2 linked regions of the Homo sapiens genome follow. The protein of the gene in region 1 interacts with the protein of each later gene in a biochemical or structural test. Each region holds a gene or a part of one and is shown on either strand. Other genes may lie near its edges.

Region 1 (7,029 bases):
GATTTTAGGTGAAGCCTGTGGGGTAAGGGGAGACCTTACTGCCTACAGTGTCCCCATCCACCAACCCATCCCCCCCGCAACTCATCCTTCTGTCCACCCCCAGTCAAAGGCCAGCCAGGACATCCTTAGCATGCTCTTCTTGTCCTTAACGTTGATGGGCTTAGACCTTTCTAACGACAGTAGACAGAATGTCACTGAATGTAGGGAGGAAATACAGATTGGAAAACGTGTCAGTCTGGCAGTGAGGACAAATGACTCCAATGAAAGAAAAGTAAATACCAGAGCAAGCACAGTCAGAAACAGAGTGGGGAGGAGAATCACAATAGCTGGAACTCAACTCTCTGAGAGGCAGTGCAGCCAAATAGAGGCAGCTGAGAGCAGAGTATGTGGATTAGAACTTTTCGGGAGAGTTGGCCACTGAAGGAGTAGGAGAAAATTCCCCTGAGTTGGTGAGAGTTGAGTCTTTAGAGCTAAAGACCCCCAAATTTTTTTATCAGAAGTACTTAAACATACATGTTCCTGATAATATTTCCAAATTGCAGAAGTAAAGGGAAACTTCTCTAAACATCCAAATAATAGTATCACTACTAAGCTGCTTTGAAGAAAGGCAGTCTCAACTGGCCTGGGCATCTCATCTTTGTGCCATACCAAATGCTACTGGAAAATGTTTAGAATTCTGAGAAAAGACCTGGCTTCATGAGGTGAGAGTAGGTATGTGTACTGTGTAGTTGTCATTGATAGAGAAATATAAATTTTAAATGTGTTCAAAATATAAAGAGAACACGAGAAAATTTCAGGTGGTGGCAGGAATAGGCAAAAGCCCGTTGCACCCTGTTGACAGCAGGGTGTTTGTGACGTGGTAGGTCACACACTCAGTGCTGGGCTCTGGAGGCACAGAAGCAACCGGCCCAGCTACGCATCAGCCCTTGAGCCGATTCATGTGTTCGATCATATTCCTGAGACAGTAGGGTCTGTGCAGGTAACAAAGCACCAGTCAGCAGGAAACTCACCACCGGGAAGCCTTTCTATCAAAACATAACTTCAAAATCAGTAAAGTGGGCCGGGCATGGTGGCTCACGCCTATAATCCCAACTTCAAAATCAATAAAGCGGGCCGGGCGCGGTGGCTCACGCCTATAATCCCAACTTCAAAACCAATAAAGTGGGCCGGGCGCGGTGGCTCACGCCTATAATCCCAACTTCAAAATCAATAAAGCGGGCCGGGCATGGTGGCTCACGCCTATAATCCCAACTTCAAAACCAATAAAGCGGGCCGGGCGCGGTGGCTCACGCCTATAATCCCAGCACTTCGGGAGGCCAAGGTGGGTAGATCACATGAGGTCAGGAGTTAAAGACCAGCCTGGTCAACATCGTAAAACCCCATGTCTACTAAAAAAAAAGTTAGCTGGGCATGGTGGCACGCCCTCGTAATCCCAGCTGCTCGGGAAGCTGAGGCACGAGAATTGCTTGAACCTGGGAGGCAGAGGCTACAGTGAGCTGAGATCATGCCACTGCACTCCAGCCTGTGTGACACAGTAAGACTGTGTCTCAAAAAACCAAAACAACAAAAAATAATAAAAATATATAGAAAACAGAATAATTAACAGATTAGCTATGGAAAGATCAAAGCTACAGGGGACCCAGATAACACAACAGGCAGAGTTTAGTAGATACGTGTCAAACCCTAGATTGTGACAGCAGAGTGTGCCTGGGAATTTCTATGAAACTAATGCGGAATAAAATGAAAAAAGGACAAAACCCTGCTGCCTGGAAATGTGAAACCTCAAAAAAGTCAAGTGTAGAGACCGTAACTATGTATCTGAACCTGATGTGTACAGAACTCAGAAGAAAACCTGTGTATCTTCAGTACTAGTATATGGGTTCTTTACAAAGTGAAAATTAATGAAATAAGCATACAACTCAAGAATTCGGAAAAAGCAAAATTAACTGAAGAAACCAAAGAATAATATTAAAGACAAATACAGAAATTAATGATTTAAAGGAAGAAATGTATTAGGCCAGGTGTAGTGGCTCATGTTTGTAATCCCAGCACTTTGTGAGGCTGAGGCAGGAGGATTGCTTAAAGCCAGGAATTCAAGACCAGCCTGGGCAACATAGCCAGACGTCTATTTTTTTTTTTTTTTTGGAACAGTTCTGCTCTGTCGCCAGGCTGGAGTGCAGTGGTGGCACGATCTTGGCTCACTGCAATTTCCGCTGCCCAGGTTCAAGTGATTCCCCTGCCTCAGCCTCCTGAGTAGCTGAGACTACAGGTGCATGCCACCACGCCTGGCTAATTTTTTGTATTTTAGTGGAGATGGGGTTTCACCATATTTCACCATGTTGGCCAGGATGGTCTTGATCTCCTGACCTCATGATCTGCCCACCTTGGCCTCCCAGAGTGCTGGGATTACAGGCGTGAGCCACCGTGCCTGGACCTCATTCTATAAAATATTTTAAAAATAAATTTTAAAATTAAATTTATTAGAACTAACACATACTAGAACTGGCTCTTTGAAGCAATAACATATATGTTTTAAAAAAATCAAAGTTAAAATCCCTCCCTTGGCTAAGCACTGTGGCTCCCGCCTGTAATCCTAGCACTTTGGGAGGTGGAGGCAGGCAGATTGCTTGAGTCCAGGAGTTTGAGACCAGCCGCCTAGGTAACATGGTAAAACCTCATCTCTACAAAAAAACAAAACAAAAAAACTAGCCGGACATGGGGGCATGTACCTGTAGTCCCACCTACTCGGGAGTCTGAGGTGGGAGGATCCCATGAGCCTGGGAGGTTGAGGCTGCAGTGAGACATGATTGCACCACTTCACTCCAGCCTGGGTGACACAGTAAGACCCTGTCTCAAAAACCAAACAGAAACCCAAACAACTCCCTTAAGGCTGGGCGTGGTAGCTCCTACCCATAATCGCACCTCTCAGGGAGGCTGAGTTGGAGGATTGCTTGAGACCAACCTGGACAACTCCCTCTCTATAAGAAATAGAAAAATGAGGCCAGGCACATGGCTCATGTCTGTAATCTCAGCACTTCGGGAGGCTGAGGTGAGCAGATCACTTGAGGTCAGGAGTTCGAGACCAGCCCGGCCAATGTGGCAAAACCCCGTCTCTACTAAAAATACAAAAATTAGCTGGGCGTGGTGACACACACCTGTAATCCCAGCTACTGGGGAGGCTGAGGCAGGAGAATTGCTTGAGCCCAGAAGGCGGAGGTTGCAGTGAACCGAGATTATGCCACTGCACTCCAGCCTGGACAACAGAGAATCGGCTTCAAAAAAGAAAAGTCAGGGGGCACAGTGGCCCACACCTGTTGTTCCAGCTACTCGGGAGGCTGAGGCGGGAGGATTGCTTAAGTGCAGGTGTTTGAGGCTGCAGTGAGCTGTGGTTGCACCACTGCACTGCAGCCTGGGTGACAGAGTGAGACCCCGTCTCTAAAAGAAATTTAAAAAGTTCTGTCTCAGAATCCTTGTTTTCCAGCTGTCTGTTTTGAGAAATTTGAGTCCTACAAAAAAGTTCAGTGAGTCATGGCCACAAACCCTCCACCTAGATCCACCAATTGTGTTTTGACACGCTTGGTTTTTATGAGCAAGCCTCCTACGAATGAGAGTGTTCCTGAGAGCCACACAGCCTCATCACCACAAAAGAGGTGACGCCACGACTCACCAGGGTCCGTCTTGGCCCCTTGCTGTCCAGGGAACAACCCGTGCCGCTGATTTGTGTTCCTGGTTGAGGGTCCGGTGCTGTGTGTATATAGTTGTGATGTCTTTCTAGTCTTTAATTGAGAAGGTTCTGCCTCTTTGTTGTGGTTGTTGCTGCTTTGTGGCATTTTTGACGAGTTCAGGTCAGCTGACCATCCCACACGCTGGATTTGTCTGCTTCCTCACAGTTGGGCTTGGGTTGAGCCTGTGGCTGAGAGTAGCCTCTGGGTGGCAGTGTCCTCTGCTCTCCCATCCGGGGCCTGCAGTGGGACACTATGTCAGATCCCCGGAGATGGTGTCTTTTTTCCTTTGTAATTAATGAATAATCCAGTGGTGACACTGAGCATGTCCTGGTGAGCTGTGTGACTCCTGCCTGATAATGGTGGTTTTTCTAGCCTGTCCTTTCCTTTCACGTTTATTGGTTGGCGTTCTGAGAAGAGCCGCCTTTTCTCCCATCACTTAGTGTGCAGTGTGCTACCTGTCACCTGTCTGTCACCTGTCAGTCACTGTCACCTGTCACTGTCACTGTCACCTGTCACTGTCCATCTTTTTGATGCTTGACGGTTCCACCTTTGGCCGGTGGCCACCTCAGTCTGGTGGTGTCTTTTGCCGTGTTCTGGCGTTTTTCGTTTATGTTTTGAGCCCTCCCTTATGTTCTGGGTTAAGCAGATGCTGCAGGCACCTCTGAACATTCCCTGCCTGGCCCTGGAATCAGCCTGGCTCCTCTGAGTGGGGAGTGGTGTTGAGAAACCTCGATCTAGACGCCGGGCATGCTCCATGCTCCCGGAGTGTCTTCTCCCATCACCGCACCCTCCGGTTGATGTGTCCTCCGGACCATTGACTCACGGGTGTGTGTAGGCAGAAGGGGTGGAAGCGAGGAAAGGCGTTGCTGAGGAGGCCCGGAGGGAGCGGGTTCTGGCTGTGCTGGCACTAGCCAGGCTGGCAGGCTGCGTGGGTACTTCTGTGATTTTCCTCTCAAGTGCACGTGGCTTTTTCTTGCACTGTTTCGTGTGTGTGCTTTATTTCACAATAAAACTCTTGAATTAAGTATGCATAGAAACTATTTCTTTTTTCTCTGGGTGGCAAGATTATGAAAAAATTTTCTTACGCTTTTCTATATTTTCCAAGTTTGAATTTCACTGTAAGCACCTGGCTTTGTACCGCCCTTTTTCTGTTACACAGTCATCATTTGCTTGCTTGTTGTGGGAGCACTTTTGCACAGGTCTGCTTGGTTAGTGAAAGCATGTCTCCCTTTCTAGGAAGGTTGTGCAGGACCAGCGTTCCCTGTGCAGGCGCCACTGCGTTTCCTGCAGATTCCGACCGGCACTGCAACGGATTCCCTGCCGGAGCTGAGGTCACCAACAGGCCGTCGCCATGGAGACCCCTGGTACTTCTCATTCCCCTGCGCCTGGGGCTCACGGACATCAACGAGGCCTACGTGGAGACGCTGAAGGTGGGTCCTGCCGTGCGGCGCTTGCCCTGAGTCCCCGTCCCCTTCTCCCAGTTCTTAGTCACTTTCAGCGCATCGTCGTCACGTGGCCATTTGTGCAGCCGGCTCTCGGGGGAGGGGTAAACAACCCTGGTTTACACCGTTGCCCAAGGGGTGAGTGGGCGTGAGGCACGTCCATCAGTAGGCACGTGCTGCTTTCGTTCTGCAAGTGTCAAGGCGAGTGTCGAGGATGAAAGCATGAGGCGCTTGCAGGGGGTCCTTGGAACCAGGTGCCACTCCTCGGCCTGACGGGGAGCCCCGCCCCCTCCCGGGTCTCCACTGTGCCCCAGGCATGCCCACCCCACTCCCCCACAGCCCTCTTGGCCTGAGGTCCCTTCGGAGGGTGGGTTGGCCTGTGAGGAAGGGACGTGTGGGCAGGGCCTGGGGATGGGCAGGGCTGTGTGAGGAGCTCCAGCCACAGGCTCCCCCATGTCATGAAAGCAAAAGGGGGCGGGGAGCGGTGGCTCATGACTGTAATCCCAGCACTTTGGGAGGGCAAAGCGGGCAGATCACGAGGTCAGGAGTCTGAGACCAGCCTGGCCAACATGGTGAAACCCTGTCTCTACTAAAAATATAAAAATTAGCCGGGCATGGTGGTGCGCGCCTGTAGTCCCAGCTACACAGGAGGCTGAGGCAGGAGAATCTCTTGAACCCAGGAGGCGGAGCTTGCAGTGACCCGAGATCATGCCATTGCACTCCATCCTGGGTGACAGAGTGAGACTCCATCTCAAATAAAAAAAAAAAAAAAGCAAGCAGAAGGGAAAACCATCCTTTCTTCAGGTAACTCAAATTTTAGACCAAGGAGTCACATTTGTATGGAACTGAAATGTGGCTTCCTGTTAAAATTATTCAGTTGTCTGAACTTGGCCCCTCCGTCCAGCCTTCTGCCCATCCTGTGGGGTCTCAGCTGCCCCCACACATAGGCCCCGTCTCCATCGCTTCTGCCCTGTCAGGTCAAAGCACTCAGCAGGGCCACCTCCCGCACCCCTGCTCACATCTCCTGCCAGGCCCCCTCACTCCCGGCCTCCCCAAAGCCCACCTCTGACATGAAGCTTCCCTGAGCTGAGCCTGCAGATTGGGTTTCTTGTGCCTGTGGGATGTCCTGTGGTCTTTCCTGGACAGTAAGCTCTTTGGTACCATGTCCCCTCCTGTCCCCTCTTGTGTCACCCAGTTGGGCCTCAGCAGGCCCTTGGGCCCCCTATGGCAGTGGGTGGGGGGACCGTCTGCTCCCACCTGGGACCTGTGCTCAGTCCCCCGCCCCTCCACAGCACTGCTTCATGATGCCCCAGTCCCTGGGCGTCATCGGAGGGAAGCCCAACAGCGCCCACTACTTCATCGGCTACGTTGGTGAGTCCAGGGTTCCCACCGTGTCCCTGTGGGCCTGGGCCTTTTAAGGGCATTCCATGAGCAGGTACCACACCCCAGGTGACCACTTGAGGCCACTGGTGGAAAAGCAGCATGCCCTGGGGTTCATTTTCAGCCTGGTCGCGGGCGGCCTCCTGTGTGCCCCTTTCCCTGATGGTCTGGTGCCCTCGGCTCCCTCCCCACCTCCTGCCCACTGCTTCTCAGTGTGATGTGGGTGCAGTGGGTCTGAAATGCGGCCTCCTCTGTCCCTTTCCTCTGCCGGCTCGGCCACCCACCTGCCCACCTGCCTCATCCTCCCAGGTGAGGAGCTCATCTACCTGGACCCCCACACCACGCAGCCAGCCGTGGAGCCCACTGATGGCTGCTTCATCCCGGACGAGAGCTTCCACTGCCAGCACCCGCCGTGCCGCATGAGCATCGCGGAGCTTGACCCGTCCATCGCTGTGGTACGTGGCGGCCACCTGAGCACACAG
Region 2 (7,029 bases), on another chromosome or scaffold:
TAGACGATGTCGTTGGGCCGCATGCGGAATCCATAGTACACCAGGGCAGCCATGCGGTAATACCTGGGAAGGCACAGGGCCAAGGGCTGAGCGGGCCCTAGAAAGGCAGAAGGAGGCTCCCCAGCCCTGCCTGTGCCTACCCCACCCTGGGCACCTGCCCCTTACCTGCTGTGCACCACGATGGCGGCCTTGGGCAGCCCTGTGGTGCCGGATGTGTAGATGTAGAACAGTTTATCTAAAGAAAACAGACGCGAGTGGCTGTCGGGGGCAGCTCAGGGCTGGGCAAAGGGTCACACAAATGGACACCTGCAGGTGTGCACCCTTCAACACCTGTTCCCATCACACCCTTGCTAGGAAGCCTGTTCTGATAACCTCAGATACCATTCAGCTCTAACACCGGCATCCATTCCAACAAATATTTCCTGGGCCCTTGCTCTGTGCTAGGCCCTGGTGGAGAGAGACATCAGTGAGTAAGATGGGCACGGGCCTGGCCCTCTTGGCAGTCACAGCTCAGTGGAACAGTCAGATGAGGACACAGGCAATTCCAATACTAAGCAACAAGTGCCGAGGGAGGGCACAGGACCTGTTGAAACCCAGTAGCCACATTTGGCCCAAGCTTGCAGGAGGGGAGGTGGTGCCAGGTGGGCTTCACGATAAAGGTGACACCTGCCCCAAGTCATAGAGCACAGGGAGGCATTAGCTGCAGGAAGTGGGGTGTTGAGGTAGCTTCCGCACTGCTGAGCATTGATCTGTCCCACTCTGCAGCCCTCGACAGGGATTGCCACGTTAGAGTTTCTATGTGAGGCTCGGCCCTACCAGACTTGAGGTTCCCTGGAGGTCAGGAACTCCACAGGCAGACTCCACGTGTTTAGAATGCCTGCCGAGACACCTCATGCTCTCTGCCTGCCTGCTGTTTGCCAGCCCTAGGCACTATGAGGGCACCAGAGCAACCAGCCAGAGTCCCTGCCCTCAAGCAGCTGACAAATGCACCCAAGAGACCAGATTCACATACAAGAGAGAAGTTAAACAGTGCTGATGACAATGACCAGTTACTGAGCCCCTCCTGCCACACCCTAGCTTCAGGACTGGCCCCACTGTATTTTTTTCAACCCTCAAAGATACCCCATAGAGTAGGTTCTGCTACTGTCCCCAGTTTTATGGCTGTGGGAACTGAGGCTCCAAGGGCAGGGCAGGTGTCAGGGTTCACACAAAGGAAGCAGTAGAACCAGGATATAAACTCGGATCTGACTCGACAGCCCAAGCTCTGAGCCACCAGGCAATGTGGCTTCACAGGAAAGAGAATGAGAAGAGCAGAAGAACCAGGTAGGCTACAGTATAAAAGAAGAGGGGTGAGAGGCTCAGGAAGGCTGCCTGGAGGTGGGGTCAGGGAGGCAGCACAGTGCTGGGAGAGGATCACAGCTGGAGATCCTGAAGTGTCCTGCACTGAAGAGGCACTTGATGAATATACAAAGGGTCTTGCTCCTCACCCACCCTCCCACCCAACCCCAACCAAAGCCCAGACCAGGCAGGTTCCCGGAGTCCACAGGATTCTGCCCATTAGGCATCAATGAAGGCTTGTTCAACAAATCACACTGGACTTTGTGAGCTCCTGTGTTCTCAGCCCTGTATCTGGCACTGATACACATCAGCTCATGTCACCTTCACAGTAACCCTGGAGTGGCCCAGGTTTACTGTCACCATTTTCCAGATGGAAAAAGGGAGGTGACGTGACATGTTCCAGGCACATGGCAAGTTTCCAGAAAAGCCTCCTTCTGGCACTGAGGCCAGTGCTCTGTCCAGGGCCTGTGTGAGAGCCCCTCTATGGGGAGGGGATGGAGCCCACCTGTGAAGCCCTTGTCAGGGCAACTGGGAAGGTGCTTGGGAGCATCTTTCAGCAGAGGGTCCAGGTGTTCTGTGCTTGGAGGCACCGCACCGGGCTCCCAGGAGCCAGAGCAGAAGAGGCTGAGCGAGGGGTCCAGGCTGGCATGGACCTCACAGATGGCTGTGGGGAGACAGGGCAGTCAGCAGGCAGGCCAGAAAACCCCATGTTCCCAGGGACCTCTGCTCCCAGCAGGGCTGGCCATGTTGCTGAGGATACTGGCTGGGCAGGAGGAGAGGCAGTGAAGCAACTGGGCCTTCAGTGTTGACAGGGGCACCGGCAATGGTTCTATTAGCCATGGGCTAACCACAGAGTAGGTCCGCTTTACCTGCATTCCCTGGTCTCACAGCCCTGGGAAGGAGGGACCATTGACAGCCCCTCTTACAGATGAGAAGATTGACGCTCCGAGAATGAGAGGACCTGCTCACAGCTAGAATGTGCTGGACCTGGCGTGCAATGCCAGCTCTACCTCACATCAAGGTCTGGGCTCCCCCCCACTATCCCGCACTACTTACTCTGTGGTGCACCAGATAGAAGGGAGGAGTGCGGGTCAGAGGCCAGTGGCCCTCCATCCCCTTCCGAGAGCGGGAACCTGCTTTCAGGCTCCCCTGCGCACTGCACGGACATCACATAACCCCCACCCCCGGGCATGGAGCAGCGCTGGTCGGCTTGGCCCCACCTTCCTGGCTTCCTCTTGATTTGCCCAACCCTCTCTTCTTCCCTGGCTGCCTTCTTCCCTCTCCCCTTTCAGCACCATTTTTTTCTTTCCTTTCTTTTTTTTTTTTTTTCTTTTGCTTTTTTTAAATAGAGACAGACAGGGTCTCACTATATTGTCCAGGCAGGTCTTGAACTCCTGGGCTCAAGAGATTCTCCTGCCTTGGCCTCCCAAAGTGCTGGGATTACAGGCATGAGCCACTGTGCCTGGCCCCCTTTCAGCATCTTTTTTTTTTTTTTTTTAAGACAGAGTTTCACTCTGTCGCCCAGGCTGGAGTGCAGTGGCATGATCTCGGCTCACTTGGTTCAAGTGATTCTTGTGCCTCAGCCTCCTGAGTAGCCAAGATTACAGGCGTGTGCCACCACACCTGGCTAATTTTTGTATTTTTAGTAAAAACAGGGTTTCACCATGTTGGCCAGTCTAGTCTTTAACTCTCGAGCTCAGGTGACCTGCCCTCCTTGGCCTCCAAAAGTGCTGGGATTACAGGCGTGAGCCACCATGCCAGGCCCCCTTTCAGCATCCTAATGACTTCCCTATTCATTATCCCACAACCACAACAGTGTGGGGAGAAAAAACAGAGTGCTGTGATCAAGCTGAAGATCAAACCCCAGTTCTACCACTTACTAACTGTGTGATCTTGGGTGAGCTCCTCACAAACCCCTCTGAACTCCAGGCTCATCATCCATAAAACCAAGATCCCTACCTCACTCGGTCTTTATAGAGATTAGAGCTGCTCTTGGAAAGCAGCAACCTCAGTACTTTGCAGGTGCCCAATGTGGCAGCAAATAAAATGCAGGCTCTGTGAGGAAAGTGGGGAATTAATTTTGTTCCCATTTTACAGATGAGCTAGATACGGCCTAATTAGTCACAAGGATGATTACCATTGTACTGAGGGGCCACCTAGCATCAGCCATGTTGCTAGTGCTTCAGGTAAGTATCTTTTTTTTTGACACGTAACCTCTCTCTGTCATCCAGGCTGGAACACAGTGACGTGATCTCGGCTCACTGCAACCTCTGTCTCCTGGGTTCAAGCGATTCTCCTACCTCAGTCTCCCGAGTAGCTGGGACTACAGGTGCGCACCACCATGCTCGGCTAGGTTTTTTTTTGCATTTTTATTAGAGACGGGGTTTCACCATGTTGGCCAGGCTGGTCTCAAACTCCTGATCTCAAAGCTGCCCACCTCGACCTCCTAAAGTGCTGGGATTTACAGGCATGAGCCACCACACCCGGCCTTTTATTTTGTTTTTTTTGAGACAGGGTCTCACTCTGTCTGCCAGGCTAGAGTGAAGTGGCACAATCATCACTCACTGCAGCCTCAACCTCTTAGTCTTAAGTGATCCTCCTGCCTCAGCCTCTGAGTAGCTGGGACTACAGGTCCATGTCACCAAGCCTAGCTAATTTTTTAAAAACTTTTTTTAGGCCGGGCGTGGTGGCTCATGCCTATAATCCCAGCACTTTGGGAGGCCGAGGCGGGTGGATCACGAGGTCAGGGATTGGAGACCAGCCTGACCAACATGGTGAAACCTCGTCTCTACTAAAAATACAAAAAAATTAGCTGGGCGTGGTGGCGGGTGCCTGTAATCTCAGCTACTCAGGAGGCTGAGGCAGGAGAATTGCTTGAACCCGGGAGGTGGAGGTTGCAGTGAGCCGAGATCACGCCACTGCACTCCAGCCTGGGCGACAGAGCAAGACTCTATCTCAAAACAACAACAACAAAAAAAACAAAAAAAAACAAAAAACTTTTTTTAGTAGGCCAGGTGTGGTGGTTCATGCCTATAATCCCAGCACTTTGAGAGGCAGAGGTAGGTGGATCGCTTGAACTCAAGAGTCTGAGACCAGCCTGGGCAACATGGCAAAACTGAGTATCTACAAAAAATGTGAAATTTAGCCAGGCATGGTGGTGCATGTCTGTGGTCCCAGCTATTCAGGAGGCTGAGGTGGAGGGACTGCTTGAGCCTGAGAGGTCAAGGCTGCAGTGAGCTGTGACTGCACCACTGCACTCCAGCCTGGGTGACAGGGCAAGACCCTGTCTCAAAAAAATTTCTTAGTAGAGACAGGGTCTTACTATGTTGCCTAGGCTGGTCTCAAACTCCTGGGCTCAAGGGATCCTCCTGCCTTGGCCTCCCAACATGCTGGGATTACAGCTGTGAGCCACTATGCCCAGTCTGAAGTACCTTTTTGAAAACAGTATGAGGTAGGAACGACGGATGAGGAAACTGAGGCTCAGAGAAATCAGTCCCTTCCCCAGGATCTCGTTTACTCGTGGCACTGCCTAAGCTGTCTGACTCCACTCTGTGCCCTTAACCACTGACCCACACAGCCTTGGCAGGGCTGGAAGGGAGCTGTGGTCTGTGTAAGATCCCATGGGGTTCCTGCTTGTCCCCCGCCCCCTTGGGGCTCACCTGAGGCCATTTCGCTGCCAAAGACAAGGGCCCGTGCGCGCGAGGTGGTGAGGCAGTGGAGCAGAGCATCCCGCCGCAGGTTGGTGTTGATGAGGGCTGCCTCCACACCGAGCTTGGCCATGCCCAGCCATAGGCCCACGAACTCATTGCGGTTCTCCATGAAGATGGCAGCCACATCGCCCGAGGCCAGGCCCCGGGCCTGCAGGAAGTTGGCTACACTGCTTGAGTACTCATCCAGCTGGCGGAAGGTCCAGTGGGTATCTGTGCCCTCGAAGATCAGGGCCGTCTTGTCGGGGTGGCGCCGAACGGTAGAGGCAAACAAAATGGGCACTGTCCGCCGCTCCTGCAGGCACTGTCGCACCTTTGCCTTCACCTTCAGGAGGACCAGGCCGCCACTGTGTGTGAACAAGAGAGGGCGCTGTGTCTGCCATGGTTGGGAGGGAGGGGTCCTGACACCCTACCCCAGGCTGCTGCCTCGCCAGCCTATGCTTCATGAGCCAGACCCCCTACAACACTTCTATCTCCTGGCTCCTGCTGGGAACATGCACTGCCTTACTGATGCCTCTCAATAACACTGAGAGTTCGTATGATTCCCCTCCCCTTACACAGAAGGAAATCAAGGCTCTCGTGGTGCCGTGGCCTGCTCAAAGCTTCATGGATGGAGGGTGGCTGAGCTGAGATTTGAACTCTAGGCCTCTCTGGCTCCAGAGTTCTACTCCTACCCTCTCAGCCTGCTGCTCCAGCAGAAACCTCCTAGGTCTCCAGAGCTTCCTGTAAAAGTCCAAACTCCTTGTTTGGGGCCTCCCACAGTCCAGCTGCTCCCTCGACCCACCATGACCACAGTAAATAATGAATGAGTTTGCTGGTCTGTCCAGTCTTCCTCCCTGTGAGCCTAGCTGGGATAGGCTTCTGTCTTATTCAACACTCTATCCCCTGGGTCCTGTGCCAGGCAGAGTAGATGTTCAATAAGTTTGTGGAATCACTTGGCAACATCCCATTCCTGCCACCTTTGTTTTTTTGTTTTTTTTTTTGAGATGGCGTCACACTCTGTCACCCAGGTTGGAGTGCAGTGATGCAATGTCAGCTCATTGCAACCTCCACTTCCCAGGCTCAAATGATGCTCCCACCTCAGCCTCCCAAGTAGCTGGAACCACAGGTGTGCACCACCATGCCTGGCTAACTTTTTTGTATTTTGGTAGGGACGGGGTTTTGCCATGTTGCCCAGGTTAGTCTCAAACTCCTGAGGTCAAGTGATCCACCCACTTCGGCCTCCCAAAGTGCTAGGATCACAGGTGTGAGCCACTGCGCCCAGCCCTGGACTCCATGCCTTTGTTGCTGATGCTGTGCCTTCTGGTTGGATTCATCTCCTTCCACCACCACTAAGGCGCCTCTCAAGTACAGCCGCTTTTTCTCCAGGAGGCCTTCTCTGATTCCCAGGGTCCTGGCTGGCAGCTGTTTCTCCTTGCTCCATGCTCCCACAGCTACCACCCTTCCTGGTGTGCCACTCCGTGCCTTCTTTTGCAATCAACCAAGATTGACAAATGCTGAGCTGCCTGTGTGGGGTGTGGGTCACTGAACTGGGTGCTGGGACACAGTAGTGAGCAAGGCTGTGCCAGGGTCTCTGCCCACATGGCACTGCCAATTTACAGATGTGCTGTGTCCCTTTCTTTCTCCTGACCAATCTGAGCTTGGCAGATGGGGTCTGCCTTATTCCTCTCTGGACCCCAAAGCTAGCCTGGCACCTAGTAGAGAACAAGCGGGAATAGATATTTCTGGTACAGGATGTCCCTTGGAGCATACCGGGCTTTCTTTGGGGAGCAGGTTATCCCAGACATCTGAGTAGGGGCTCTGCTCTAGAACTCAGTGCCCCCTGTGCCATCTCACACCCCTGCCAACCTGAGGGCAGGGCCTTTCCCCAAAATTCCTCTTTACCCTTTCATAAACTTACAGAGTCCTCAGGACCCCTTGCAGATGTCTCAACACACTTGGTGTTCAATGTACGTCCTAGGCCAAGCCTGCCCAAGGCCTGGGA

What was found. Proteins that work in one complex are often made in the same cells at the same time.
Region 2: the proteins of ATG4B (region 1) and SLC27A4 form a complex in vitro, tested with the Homo sapiens proteins (one study listed by BioGRID).

What each region holds. Positions count from the first base shown.
Region 1 is NC_000002.12:241,661,684-241,668,712, forward strand, and holds part of ATG4B (cysteine protease ATG4B), read left to right. Parts: intron 1-4,961; coding exon 4,962-5,155; intron 5,156-6,459; coding exon 6,460-6,538; intron 6,539-6,856; coding exon 6,857-7,002; intron 7,003-7,029. UniProt on the Homo sapiens protein: Cysteine protease that plays a key role in autophagy by mediating both proteolytic activation and delipidation of ATG8 family proteins. Required for canonical autophagy (macroautophagy), non-canonical autophagy as well as for mitophagy.
Region 2 is NC_000009.12:128,343,518-128,350,546, reverse strand, and holds part of SLC27A4 (long-chain fatty acid transport protein 4), read right to left. Parts: intron 5,393-7,029; coding exon 4,998-5,392; intron 2,003-4,997; coding exon 1,844-2,002; intron 236-1,843; coding exon 166-235; intron 64-165; coding exon 1-63. UniProt on the Homo sapiens protein: Mediates the levels of long-chain fatty acids (LCFA) in the cell by facilitating their transport across cell membranes. Appears to be the principal fatty acid transporter in small intestinal enterocytes.